2 separate regions of the Homo sapiens genome follow, and region 2 is linked to region 1. A link means that fine-mapping ties the variant in region 1 to the expression of a gene that starts in the linked region. Tissue or cell type: whole blood. Region 1 holds a variant in brackets; the other region holds the start of a gene. All regions are shown on one strand. Distances are between the middles of the regions.

What was found. PIP is the estimated chance that this variant, and not a neighbour inherited with it, causes the effect.
Region 2: MYOF starts here. The variant in region 1 is fine-mapped to the expression of MYOF in whole blood (TOPMed, PIP above 0.99).

What each region holds. Positions count from the first base shown.
Region 1 is chr10:93,512,556-93,517,555 of GRCh38, reverse strand. It overlaps CEP55 (centrosomal protein 55), which reads right to left. Exons shown (of 9, transcript NM_018131.5): 5 at 2,001-2,151; 6 at 308-621. Among named protein-coding and RNA genes, the nearest start is that of CEP55, 18 kb to the right of the region's middle. The variant G/C (reference allele first, on the strand shown) is at 2,423.
Region 2 is chr10:93,478,166-93,485,853 of GRCh38, reverse strand. It overlaps MYOF (myoferlin), which reads left to right and starts at 3,520. Exons shown (of 54, transcript NM_013451.4): 1 at 3,520-3,747. The coding sequence starts at 3,660.

The sequences.
Region 1 (5,000 bases):
AATTTCCTCCATTGAGAGGAAAAGTCACCCACCTCACTGGGTCCTCCTCATCATCAGGTCTTTGTCCAAATGCCATCTCCTCAGAGAGGCCTCCACTGGTCCCCAATTTCCCTTTGTCATGTCACCCTGTTGCATTTTCTTTAGTTTCCTTATTTATTGTTTATGGTCTGTTTCTGTTCTGGAATATAACTCCCATGAGGGGCAGGAATTTGTTTTGTCCCTAGCCAGTTCTCTAGTGGTCAAATAGTCCCTGACACTTAGAAAGTGTTCGGTGAACACTCTGAATTATGGATCTGGTTAAGTTTACCTGAGATAAGAGCTCTTCGGATCTCTTCTTCTCTTCTTCAAGTTTTCCCCTAGCAATATCATTCTCTTCCCTGAGTTTTTGTATCTTCTCTGTTTTATGCCTATCATCTTCCAGATGTTGCACATCTGCCCTTCTTTGTGAATACAACAGCTGATTTAAATTGTGAACTTCTTTTTGGGTTTCTTCATATTTTCTTCGAAATTCACTCAGTTCAAAACTCAGCTGAGTTATGGTTTGTCGTTCAACCTCAAGATCTTTTTTTGCACTTGCCAAGAGATCGTTGTAACATTTCTGCTTCTCTTCTTGAAGATAACCTATGACAAACAACATTACGGCACAACTCACTTTATAAAATAAATAATATTCCTGAAAAGAGAAACATCAAACATCTAAATGAATCACACTATTTCCTTAGTTTACAACATGAAAAGTCAAGAGATAGGGACTATGGTTGATATTTGATGAAATAAAAAACAAGTTCAGGTATACTATTTGAAGTTATAAAACTCACAAATAGAAGAACTAAAAACAGTAACATCTATTCTGTTGGGAGGGAAAGTCTCAAGAAGTTCAATCAACAAATAGGAACACAAGCTCATTATTTATATGTGGAGATAACTATCAAAATTAAAAATAGAAATATTAAGAGCAGTTGCCTGATGGGAGGAAGAAACGGGGATTGGGATGGGAAAGACAGGGCAAGGTCCTTCTTAACTATTACATTATTCTAACAAGTGCTTATATTGCTTTGATAAAACAGACACACAGAGAAAGAGAGAGAGAGAGAGAGAGAACTGTATTACCAAAGAAAAGAAATTAGACTTAGCCCATAACTAAAATCCTGCTTTTACATAAGCACATATTTTATAGAAGCAACTTAGTGCCATTAGGGCTGACAGCTTTGAAGTGCCTCCAGAGACATTTATAGTTTCTTTTTAGCATTAGCTTTGTTTTAAGTATTCAAATATGATTCTCCAATCTTATGAGTCTTGTTCCCCTTTCTTTAGACTTCTCTATAAAATTCAAGGCTTTGGTCCCCTCCAAACTGTCAGTCTTTTAAGGAGAGCATTGCATGGAGTTTCTCATTTTTCTTTTCTTAGCTTGTCATCTAGAATTGCTAAACCTATTTCTTCATCTGTAAAATGAGAATACTGACCTTTCCTGCCCCGCCTCTTAGGGTTGCTCTAAAACTCCACTAAGATCTATGTAAGGGAAACTGCAAAGTGCTTGGCAAAAAGACAGCATCGTGAATGAGAAATTTCATCTCAATTCTATACCTGAAGTTCAAATGATTTAAGGATCATCTAAAAAAGGCATTCTTTCTCCTGGGGTTGATATGAATAAGTGCTGAAGGGAAGCAAAGTGAAAAGAGAATTGTGACAAGGCCAACTCTGGGGGAAGTAAAAGCTGGAGAAGGACTTTGAAAAAGGGGAAGGACATTCATGGGTAGAGAGAACTGAATGTGATTTCAGAACTGCCAAAGATCACCCATTAGCCTGTGTTGGTACTTTCTTTTGATCTGAAAACGTTAGGAAATAAAACTTGCAAAAATGGTATTTCTTACTTCAGGGCTATAAGACTTGCTCTTATTTTACTTTCTAACACATATCTATAAAAATCTAAATTTGATGAATCATTCCTTTTGGAAAATGTCAGGCCTATCCCTAGAGAACATTTTTATACCAGTCAGTACCTTCTGATTCAGGCTTTTTTGTCTGCTGTGGGAGTGAATGAGCAGCTGTTTCCGTTTTCTTTTCCAACTCAAAGATCTTTGCTAAAAGTCCTTTTACATAGACTTCCCGCTGCTGATCATACACGAGCCACTGCTGATTTTTCTCCAGAGCCTTAATGGGAAGATGAAAGAAAATCAACAGTAAAATAAAAAAACAAAATCTTAAAATGGGCAAGAGAGTCCAAGTGATGTAGTCTTTTCCAACAAAAACTCTATGGCTCATAGACTAATTCTGGGCAACCATTCTATGTTACATGCCTTCAGAATACATAACAACATGACACCATCGTAGTTTATGTGGGATTAAGTTCATTTGTTTGCTTTTTTCAGTACACAACTTGCTTTGTGTGTGCGTATATGTCATTCTCTGTAAACTAAAACAC[G/C]TTTTATGACAGACATGGAGATGAACTGCTCAGAATCCCCCTTCAAGAGCCCTGCCCAGCTGGCTGGGTGCGGTGGCTCTCGCCTGTAATCCCAGCACTTTGAGAGGCCGAGGGTGGTGGATCACCTGAGGTCAGGAGTTCAAGACCAGCCTGGCCAACATGGTGAAACCCTGTCTCTAATAAAAATACAAAAATTAGCCAGGCATGGTGGCGCGTGCCTGTAATCCTAACTACTCAGGAGGCTGAGGCAGGAGAATCACTTGAACCCGGGAGGTGGAGGTGGCAGTGAGCTGAGATCATGCCCCTGCACTCCAGCCTGGAAACTCCAGTGAAACTGCGTCTCTCAAAAAAACAAACAAAAAAAAGAGGATCTCTGCCCAGCTGCATGGTGAGTGATTAGCTGATTAGCTGACAGCCTCCATCTGTTAATTCCTTCAAGTCCCTGTCAGCTTTTGAGCTGAGCTGGATTGGCCCCAGCCAACAACTGAACAAGTGCCTAACTATTGCTGCCCAACGAGGACTCTGCTTTTCAGCACTCTCTGCTCTGGAGCCCCCCATGGGGTGACAGAGACCTTGTTAGGTTTTCATCATGGTCTGATGGTCTCCCTGGCATAACTACTTCCTTTTTCCTTGCACAGATCTTGCTCCCCAATAAACCGTCTGCACTCCTAACATCATCTCAGTGTCTTCTTTAGAGGATCAAACTTAACAGCTACCTTCTCTCTTTACTACCAACTTTCATCCTTTATATGATCTTTTATAACCCAATTAAAAACTCCAAGCTGCCGTCACTCACCTGTTTGTATAGGGGTTTCATACTTACAGTGAGTTGAATAATGTCCCCCAAAATTCATGTCCACTTGAAACCTCAGAATATGACCTTATTCAGAAATGGGGTCTGTGGGCTGGGCAGTGGCTCACACCTGTAATCCCAGCACTTTGGGAGGCCGAGGCGGGCGGATTACTTGAGGCCAGGAGTTCAAGACCAGCCTGGCCAACATGGCAAAACCCTGTCTCTATTTTTTAGCCGGGCATGGTGGCACGTACCTGCAGTCCCAGCTACTTGGGAGGCTGAGGTAGCAGATCACTTGAATGCGGGAGGCGGAGGTTGCAGTGAGCCAAGATTGCGCCACTGCACTCCAACCTAGACAATAGAGTGAGACCCCGTCTCAAAAAAAAAAAAGGGGAGGGGGAGGCTTTGCAGATGCAATTAGTTAAAATGAGGCCATACTGGAGTAGGGTGAGCCCTAAATCCAATGACTAGTATCCTTATAAAAAGGAGCAGACACACAGATATACATAGAGAATGAGGCCATGTGAAGACAGAAGCTTTGTATGGCAGGGATTGTAACCAGTTCATTTCACACCAGAGGACTTGCTATAAATCCAGAGCTCATAGTAATCTGAACTTCGAAGAACCTATAACAGTATCAGCAAAGCTCATTTTTTCAAGAGTGGAATACAGATTTCTGATTACTATTTGGAGAACAACACAGTAGCTCTTAAAATGATCTATTATGCATAGATAAAATTCTTCTATTTAATTTCAATCTGACAATACAATATAGTGTTTCCTTTTATAGCAGCCACTCTTTCCAGACCTCTAGTTCCACAATGAAGAGGACATAAGGAGCTTAAAGGTTTTGGGTGTCTATCAGGGCAACTGCTTTCCGGTAAGAATTTCCATCCTTTAAAGACATTGATTGAGTCCCATATCCAGAAAGATCTACATGTATGGAAACTCTTATTAAGTCTAGAGAGTTTCTCTAAGCTTTGTTAGGCTCTTTCTACTAGCACCCTACAAACTCTTGAGCAAAGCTCCTGGGTATGGCACTTAAAGGATTTTCAGTGTCTGTTTGCTATAGAATTAGCAAATGAATTAGGAAGACAGAAACAGTCTCTAAAATCAAAGACTTAGCCCAGGAGCCTCAGCCACTTTACCAGACACTTTTCTCTCTGCATCCATTAGGGAACAGTAGTCCTCTTTACATGGCTTAAGAGTCCATTTGTCAAGTGGAGATATTGTATATCCATTTTGTATTATATATCGTCAATAGTGTAAAGCTCTGTGGATGGCTGTTTTCACTGTAGTAATTTGATTTTTGATTTAAAGAGTCTGTCTTATTGAAACTTCGTGGTAGATATATGATTGTTCAATGTATTTTCTTTTAACTTTTGTGTATGTTTGACATTTTTCGTAATAAAAATTGGGAAAAATAATCATAAAAGTTGGGAAAAATAATCAGTGAACTTAGTACAGTTGAGAAGATTGCTAGGATTCTTGGCCTATCTTAAAACAGGCTGCAGTAGTCACTCTCTTATTCAGCTCCACTGCCATCCCCAGTGAGGTTCTTACTCAGAACCTATGCATCTTTCAAAAGAAAGGACTCATGAGAAACCCAGGATCAGATTTAAATTTACTTGATAAGAGAGGAAGCACTGTATGACTCACAATGCACATGTATATCCAAATACCTATAAATTATAGTGTGTTAGATACTAAAGATACCTAATTTTATACTAAATTTTACATTTGTCCACATTTAAGTAGTATTTTAATACAAATAATTTAAGTCAA
Region 2 (7,688 bases), 33 kb after region 1:
AGAGACAGGGTCTCACTCTGTTACCCAGGTTGGAGTATAGTGGCACAATCATGGCTCACTGCCACCAGGACTTCCCAGGCTCAAGTGGTTGTCCCACCTCAGCCTTTCAAGTAGCTGGGACCACAGGTGCATGCCACCACACTCGATTAATTTAAAAAATTTTTTTTAGAGGCAGGGTCTCACTATGTTGCCCAGGCTGGTCTCAGACTCACCTCAGCCTCCCCAAAGTGTTGAGATTACAGGTATGAACCACTGTGTCTGGGCTGAAACATGTTTTATCTTGCTTATTTAGATTTATACTCCACCTGTAATTGATTATGTATTATGTAAGGTTGGAAGTCATTTGTCTTTTTCTCCCACATGAATAGGTAAAAGGCAAATTAAAACTCCAGTGAGATGCTATTATATGCTCACCAGAAGGGCAAATGTAAAAAATCTAACATTGGTTAAGTATGACAAAAATTTAGAACAACAGGAAGTCTCATACACTGCTGGCAAGAGTACCATTGTGGAATATAATTTGGAATTACCTTGTAAAGGTGAAGAAATGCATACATTCTCTGGCCCAGCAAGCAATTCCACCCATAGATTAGACTCTAAATAGACTCATGCACATTTGTGCCAGAACAGTCTTGGACTGTTCAGAACAGCACTGTTTGTAATAGCCCCATTCCCTGAACTGTCCAAATGTCTGGCAGTAGTAGAATGAATTAATCAAATCTGGAGGCCAGGCGCAGTGGCTCATGCCTGTAATCCCAGCACTTTGGGAGGCTGAGGCAGGCGGATCACGAGGTAAAGAGTTCGAGAACATCCTGGCCAACATGGTGACACCCCATCTCTACTAAAGATACAAAAATTAGCCGGGCGTGGTGGTGTGCACCTGTAATCCCAGCTACTCAGGAGGCTGAGGCAGGAGAATTGCTTGAACCCGGGAGGCAGAGGTTGCAGTGAAACGAGATCGCACCACTGCACTCCAGCCTGGGCTACAGAGCAAGACTCTGTCTCAAAATAAATAAATAAATAAAATGTCAGAAACTCATACAATGAAATGCCATATAGCAACAAGAGTGAAGGAAGTAGAGCTACATGAATGAATTTCACAATATAATACTGAGAAAAAAGAAGTCAAACACGAAAGAATCCATTCTGTATGAGTCCATTTCTATAAAGTCATAATACAGCAAAGAATTCACAAAGTATGAACACATGTATGTGTGTACCTATATATATGAATATATGTGTTGTATGTAAAGTTCATAACATACAAAAGAATTTATATCACCAAACAAAGGTCATGAGCAAGCAAACCTAAACTGTTTTGTTGTTGTTGTTTTCGGTAAAAACTACAAAGAAAAGCAAGGAAATCATTACCATAAAAATCAGGAGAGTGGGCCAGGCATGGTGGCTCATGCCTGTAATCCCAGCACTTTGGGAGGCCGAGGTGGATGGATCACCTGAGGTCAGGAGTTTGAGACCAGCCTGGCCAACACGGTGAAACCCTGTCTCTACTAAAAATACAAAATTAGCCGGGTGTGGTAGTGCACGCCTGTAATCCCAGCTACCTGGGAGGCTGAGGCAGGAGAATTGCTTGAACCCGGGAGGTGGAGGTGGCAGTGAGCCGATCACCCCACTTCAATCCAGCCTGGGCAACAAGAGTGAAACTCCATCTAAAAAAAGAAAAAAAAATCAGGAGAGTGGTTACCTCTGGGAGAAGGAGGTGGATATGATATATGGGGTATTCCAGGGGCTTCTGGAGGACTGGCAATGTTCTGTCTTGACCTGGATGCTTGTTAAACTGTCACGTTTATGTAGTATGCATTTTTCTGTAAATATATTTCACAGTAAAAATGGCAAATAGAAAGCAGCCAGATAAAATAAAAGTAATAATCTCTATATTCCACTAAAACTGCCAACATGTCCACTAAATACAATAATGAACACAGCACTGGGTAATTGGTTCTTTGCTTTAAGCCTTGGAGAAACTCGTGGAGACAGAAGAATTCTTGTAGGTTAAGTCATGCTTATTCAATGTACTTGAAATGTTTATTTACAGGTGGGTCTGCTTGATGTGTGTTCTAAAGCAAAAAGAAGCCCAATGTTTCTTCATCCCAAGTTTTAGCCTTTTCTTCTGAAATATAACGAGATCCTGATTTAAAGTCAGCCTGCACTAACAGAAACGCTGTGAGACCACAAATAAGCATGAACTTCTTACATGTGCAAATTACTGTGTGCTTTGTGCCAGCTCCTATGCTATGACCTTTATCTTATAACAGCCTTTATCCCCAGTTCATAGATGAGGAAACTGAGGAAGAGAGGGGTTAAGAAACTTGCTCGCCAGCACGGTGGCTCAAGCCAGTAAAGCTCAAGCCAGTAAAGCTCAAGCCACGGAGGCCGAGGCGGGCGGATCACAAGGTCAAGAGATCGAGACCATCCTTGCCAGCATGGTGAAACCCCGTCTCTACTAAAAATACAAAAAAAAAAAAAATTAGCTGCGTGTGGTGGCGCACGCCTGTAGTCCCAGCTACTCGGGAGACTGAGGCAGGAGAATCGCTTGAACCCGGGAGGCAGAGGTTGCAGTGAGCCAAGATCGCTACACTGCACTCCAGCCTGGTGACAGAGCGAGACTCCGTCAAAAAAAAAAAAGAAAAGAAAAGAAAAGAAAAGAAACTTGCTAAGATGACGTAGCTCAGGGTGGTGAGGCAGAGTCTCACACTCAGATCTGGCTGACTAACCCCAGGCCGCCTCTTGTGATCTCAGCCAAGCTGCACTGTCTTCATGCACCCTCTGGGACAGAAAGACACCATGGGCAGCTGTAGGTCCAGAAACAGTGGGGAGTCACTTCTCCATTTTCACTGAAGGCAATTGGCAGCATTTGAAGAGCCGGGAAAACTTAGGCGCCCAGCTCTCACCTCTGAAGGGGTTTTGAAGAAATTCTATGTTCAGTCCTTTATATATATATATATATATATATATATATATATATATATATATATATATATATATATATAATTATTTATACATATATGTAATTATTTATATATCCCATGCCTGGATCGCGTTTACTTGAAATAAACGCTGTCATTCGTTTGCCGTCCAGTAAGAGGCACCCTTTAGCTGCTTTAAAAAAGCTGAACATAGGGTTACTGAGTGGGTGTGTTCAATGGCGTGAGAAGTAACAGCGAAAAGTCAAAAGCAAATAATGACTAAAGTTTTAAAACTCCTTGAAACTCAGAAAAGAATGAAAGCAGTGACGGAAAAATCAATTAATTCAGTTTCACGAACCATTGCTAAAAGGCAGCAACATTTTAGTGGTTTCCTGACCTACCCGTATTTCTTAGCTCCAAATTCATGTTGGTTTCATTTGTCGCACGGAATTATTTTTAGTTTAGGGTTTGTCCTTTTCACTTCCACATTTCCCGAATTCATAAGTCTGTGCCTGCGGCACTGCGTAGACGCGGGGAGTTCGGTATCAGTTTACACGTTGCCTTCAGTAAAATCCGCCAGAGGTCCACCCATTTTGCCTTTTCCCCTTCCTTGCCCTGGGAGAAATCCTCCCTTCACTGGGAGAGAACTTCTCTCCCAGGGCGGTGCGACCCGGAGCTCCAGCGCCCTAGTCTCCACTTCGTTTGCTGAAACTTGCTTTCTACCAGCTAAGAACCATGCTGCGAGTGATTGTGGAATCTGCCAGCAATATCCCTAAAACGAAATTTGGCAAGCCGGATCCTATTGTTTCTGTCATTTTTAAGGGTAAGAAAAAGTTTTCTTCTTTTTCTGAAGTCCTGTTTTGGAATGTTAGTTTCTTGAGTCACCTTCTTGAAAAGTCTGCATTTAGACAGCTGATGAAGCCAAGTCTCTCCAGCAGCGTTTGTTACCTGCGCAGGACAGGGGAGAGGACCCGTTTCTGGGGAAGGCATTTAATTTTCTCCAGGGCTTGAGACTCATGGAATGACCTGATGTTTTAGCTCTAAGAGTGTGATTTCTGTAAGCTCTTGGCAGAAAACGTATTTGCGAATCACTAAATTTCAGGTATCAACAAACATCTGTATTGGTTCAAAGTAAGTTTCAGTAGTCTTAGATGCATTTTTTCTCTGCCTGTGAGAAATGGGTAAAGGAGGAAGAAGAGCAATTAAATTGTTGGAGACACCATTACTCCTTGAACCAGCCTGACGCTGCTTTGATTGTCACTGGGTTTCTGGGAGGTGGGATGGGTGAAGTTCATAGTTTTATTGAGTTTTCCTGCCCTTTTGTGCCTTTGTAATTGTTTTTATATCTAAACTGTTGGGGAGCTTTTTTTGTACATTCTGTAGCTTTTAAATTGCTCATTGAGGAAAGAACTCTGGACAGCTAGTTTGCAATTTGGGGATCTAGTTCTATCTTGCCTGCTGAATGACCTTGGGCAAGTTACTTCATTTCTCTGGGATCTCAATTTTCTTTTCTGCAAAACAGGCGAGAAGGGTTTAGACAAGATCATCTCTAAAAACCTCATGGTTGGCTGAGCACAGTGGCTCCTCAACCCTGAGCCAACTTTGGGAGGCCAAGGCAGGAGGATTGCTTGAGCCCAGGAGTTTGAGGCTACAGTGAGCCGTGATCACGCCACTGCACTCCAGCCTGGGTGTAAAAATAAATAAAAATAAAAGGCTCATGGTAATTTTAAAAGGCTATTTTTCTATGACACTTGATTGCCATTGCAGGGGAGGGGACAGGAATGCTTGGTGTCATGGTACAATTTGATGTAAGTGACTTAGTTTTGGCTAAAGTGGGGTTTCTAAATCTCAGTGTGGAGGCTTTATCTATTTTGTTTGTCATTGGTAAGACTGCCAACTCACTTCTTGGCAAGAGGGATGGGAAAGAGAGGGAAAGGCAGAGAGAGTGGGAGCATGGATAGACATGTGTTTCCTGACCATGCCTTGCTACATTTCTCGTTTCTTCCAGGAGCCTGACTGCTACTCCCTGTCAGTTCCTGAGGCATCTATACCTTTCGCCTTTCTGTTTCCCGTTTTTCCCCTTTATTTCTCTTCTTAAACCTCTCTCTCTGAGGATGAGCAAGAAAATGAAAGAAATGAAACTCAAAGCTGGCTGGCTGGGTGTGGTGACTTCTGCCTGTAATCCCAGAACTTTGGGAGGCTGAGGTGGGTGGATCACATGAGGGCAGGAGTTCGAGACCAGCCAGGCCAACATGGCAAAACCCCATCTCTACTAAAAATACAAAAATTAGCCGGGCATGGTGGCACATGCCTATAATCCCAGCTACTCGGGAGGCTGAGGCAGGAGGATTGCTTCAACCCAGGAGGAGGAGGTTGCAGTGAGCCGAGATCATGCTACTGCACTCCAACCTGGGCAACAGAGTGAGACTCCGTCTCAAAAAAAAAAAAAAAAAAAAAAAAAAGCTGGCAAATTGTTGGTTGGTTAAAAAAAAAATCTAAAGGGCAAAAATTGGATTTAAAAAAAATTTAAAAAAATTTTTTTGAATAAGACTGGGTCTTGCTATGTTGCCCAGGCTGGTTATAATTCCCTTGCTCAAACTTTCTTCCCATCTCAGCTTCCCAAAGTGTTGGGATTACAGGCGTAAACTACCACGCCCAGCTTAAAATTGGGCTCTTAAAGGACAATGAGGTTTGAAAATCTGGCTAGTGAATATCATGGACTCACGTTATGTCAGAGTTTATTTACATGTGTTAGGTTTTATTAATTTTTTGTTTTCTTGAAGCAGTTACATAATAGAGACATAATATGAAGATTTTACATCCTTCATCATTGACATATAAAGACATTAAAATATATTTGGATCAGTCCGATCATGTAATTATTTAAGTATTATAGATTATAGAGGAATTGGAGTTAATACTATATTGAAATCTGACTTGTTATTTGTCTGGAGTTTGTATGCATTGATGAAACATTTTAAATGATGAAAAATATATCTAAGTCAATGAATGCAAACAATCAATTGAAAGTGGAAAACTTCAGTTAAGTTGGCAAATATAGTCTATACAAACAATTACACATTTAACTTTAGTCTCTTTTCTGGCCTCCTTTTTTCATACAAATCGAGTGGTAAAGTCATTCATTCATTTAGCTAACAAGCAACCTGACAGAGGAAAGGGCACTCAACTCAGAGTAGGAACATCTGCATTCCAGCTGACATTAACTCAATATCTGATTTAACCACCTGGGTCTCCAATTTCTCAGCTGTGGCATGATGGGAACTGGTCTTTAGATGCCTTCCGTCTTTTAGATTCTAATTTTCTAGTTCCAGGTATTGAGTTAGCTGCTCTCAGCAAGATGTGAAATGCATTGCCTTAGGTGCTGGAGGGGATATAGCAACAAACACAGCACTCTTCTTGCTTTCAGTCTATGTCGGTGGTTTAAAATCCTGGTGATGGCAAACCCTTTACAGGTGTGTTCCCAATTTTGAGCACTGCGTAAAATTAAGTAACATTAAGTTCTGACTGAACTGAGGATACTTATAGCAAAATACTGTCCATCAGAGGGAACATGGAACAAAGGCAGACACACTTCATAGTGTGGAGTGGGGCAGGGTATGGTAAACTGGAAAAAGCCCTACCATGCCTGTAGTCCCAGCTACTCAGGAGGCTGAGGCAGGAGAATCACTTGAGCCTGGGAGGCGGAGGTTCCAGTGAGCAGAGATCGCACCACTGCACTCCAGCCTGGGAGATAGAACGAGACTCCATCTCAAAAAAAAAAAAAGGAAAAAGCCATACCAGAAGATCAAGGCGGCATCAAAGAAAGTCCCTGTGTTAACAGAAATATGTAAACATTTTGCCTCTTGGGTAAATAAACAAAGTCAGGGCAGTAAGCAGCTCTTCTCAAACTATAAGACGGTGAAGAATGGCCAGGGGAAGTGATTGTTAATGGTGAAGCTCGCATAGACACTGTGAGGCCCTATTAGGCTATAGCTACACTGTACTTGGGATTGTGCTGTACTGACAACCAACTGGTTTACAGTTGACCTCAGTTTTTCGTGTTCAAACCCTTTCTTTCTTTCTTTCTTTTTTTTTTTTTTTTTTGAGACTGTTTCACCCTGCCATCCAGGAGGGAAGAGTGCAGTCAGTGGTGTGATCATGGTCTCGAACTCCTGGGCTCAAGCGATCCTCCCACCTCAGCCTCCTGAGTAGCTGAACTATAGGCACACACCACCATGCCCAGCTAATTTTTAATTTTTTTTGTAGAGACAGGGCCTCACTCTGTTTCTCAAGCTGGCCTTGAACTCTTGGGCTCAAGCAATCCTCCTGGCTTGGCCTCCCAAAGTATTGGGATTACAGGTATGAGCGCCCAGTTGTGTTCAACCGTGAGTGACCCTTCTGAGGCTGTCAAATTACTCAGGGCCTGGTAGGAACTAGGAGGATCTGGGGGTTGCTGTAGTCCTGGTGCATGGTTGTTGGTGATGTTCAGCAGCGCAGGTGTAGATTATGAAAGCCACAACGCTTATGTAATTTTTCATATCCTTCGGGTACACCAGGTTCCATGAGCCAGATCCGAATTGAGGCTGGAGTGAGTGCCTGTGAGCCAGGGGTGGCCATTCTGCCCTAAGTTCCATGCGGACAGCCAGGCTGTGAAGCTGAATCTAGCTGAGATTAGACTACACAGACCTCTGAGACCAATTTCAACTCTGAGACTTGATGATTCTTCCAAACAGTCCTCCAAACAGAACAGGTTGTTAAAAAACT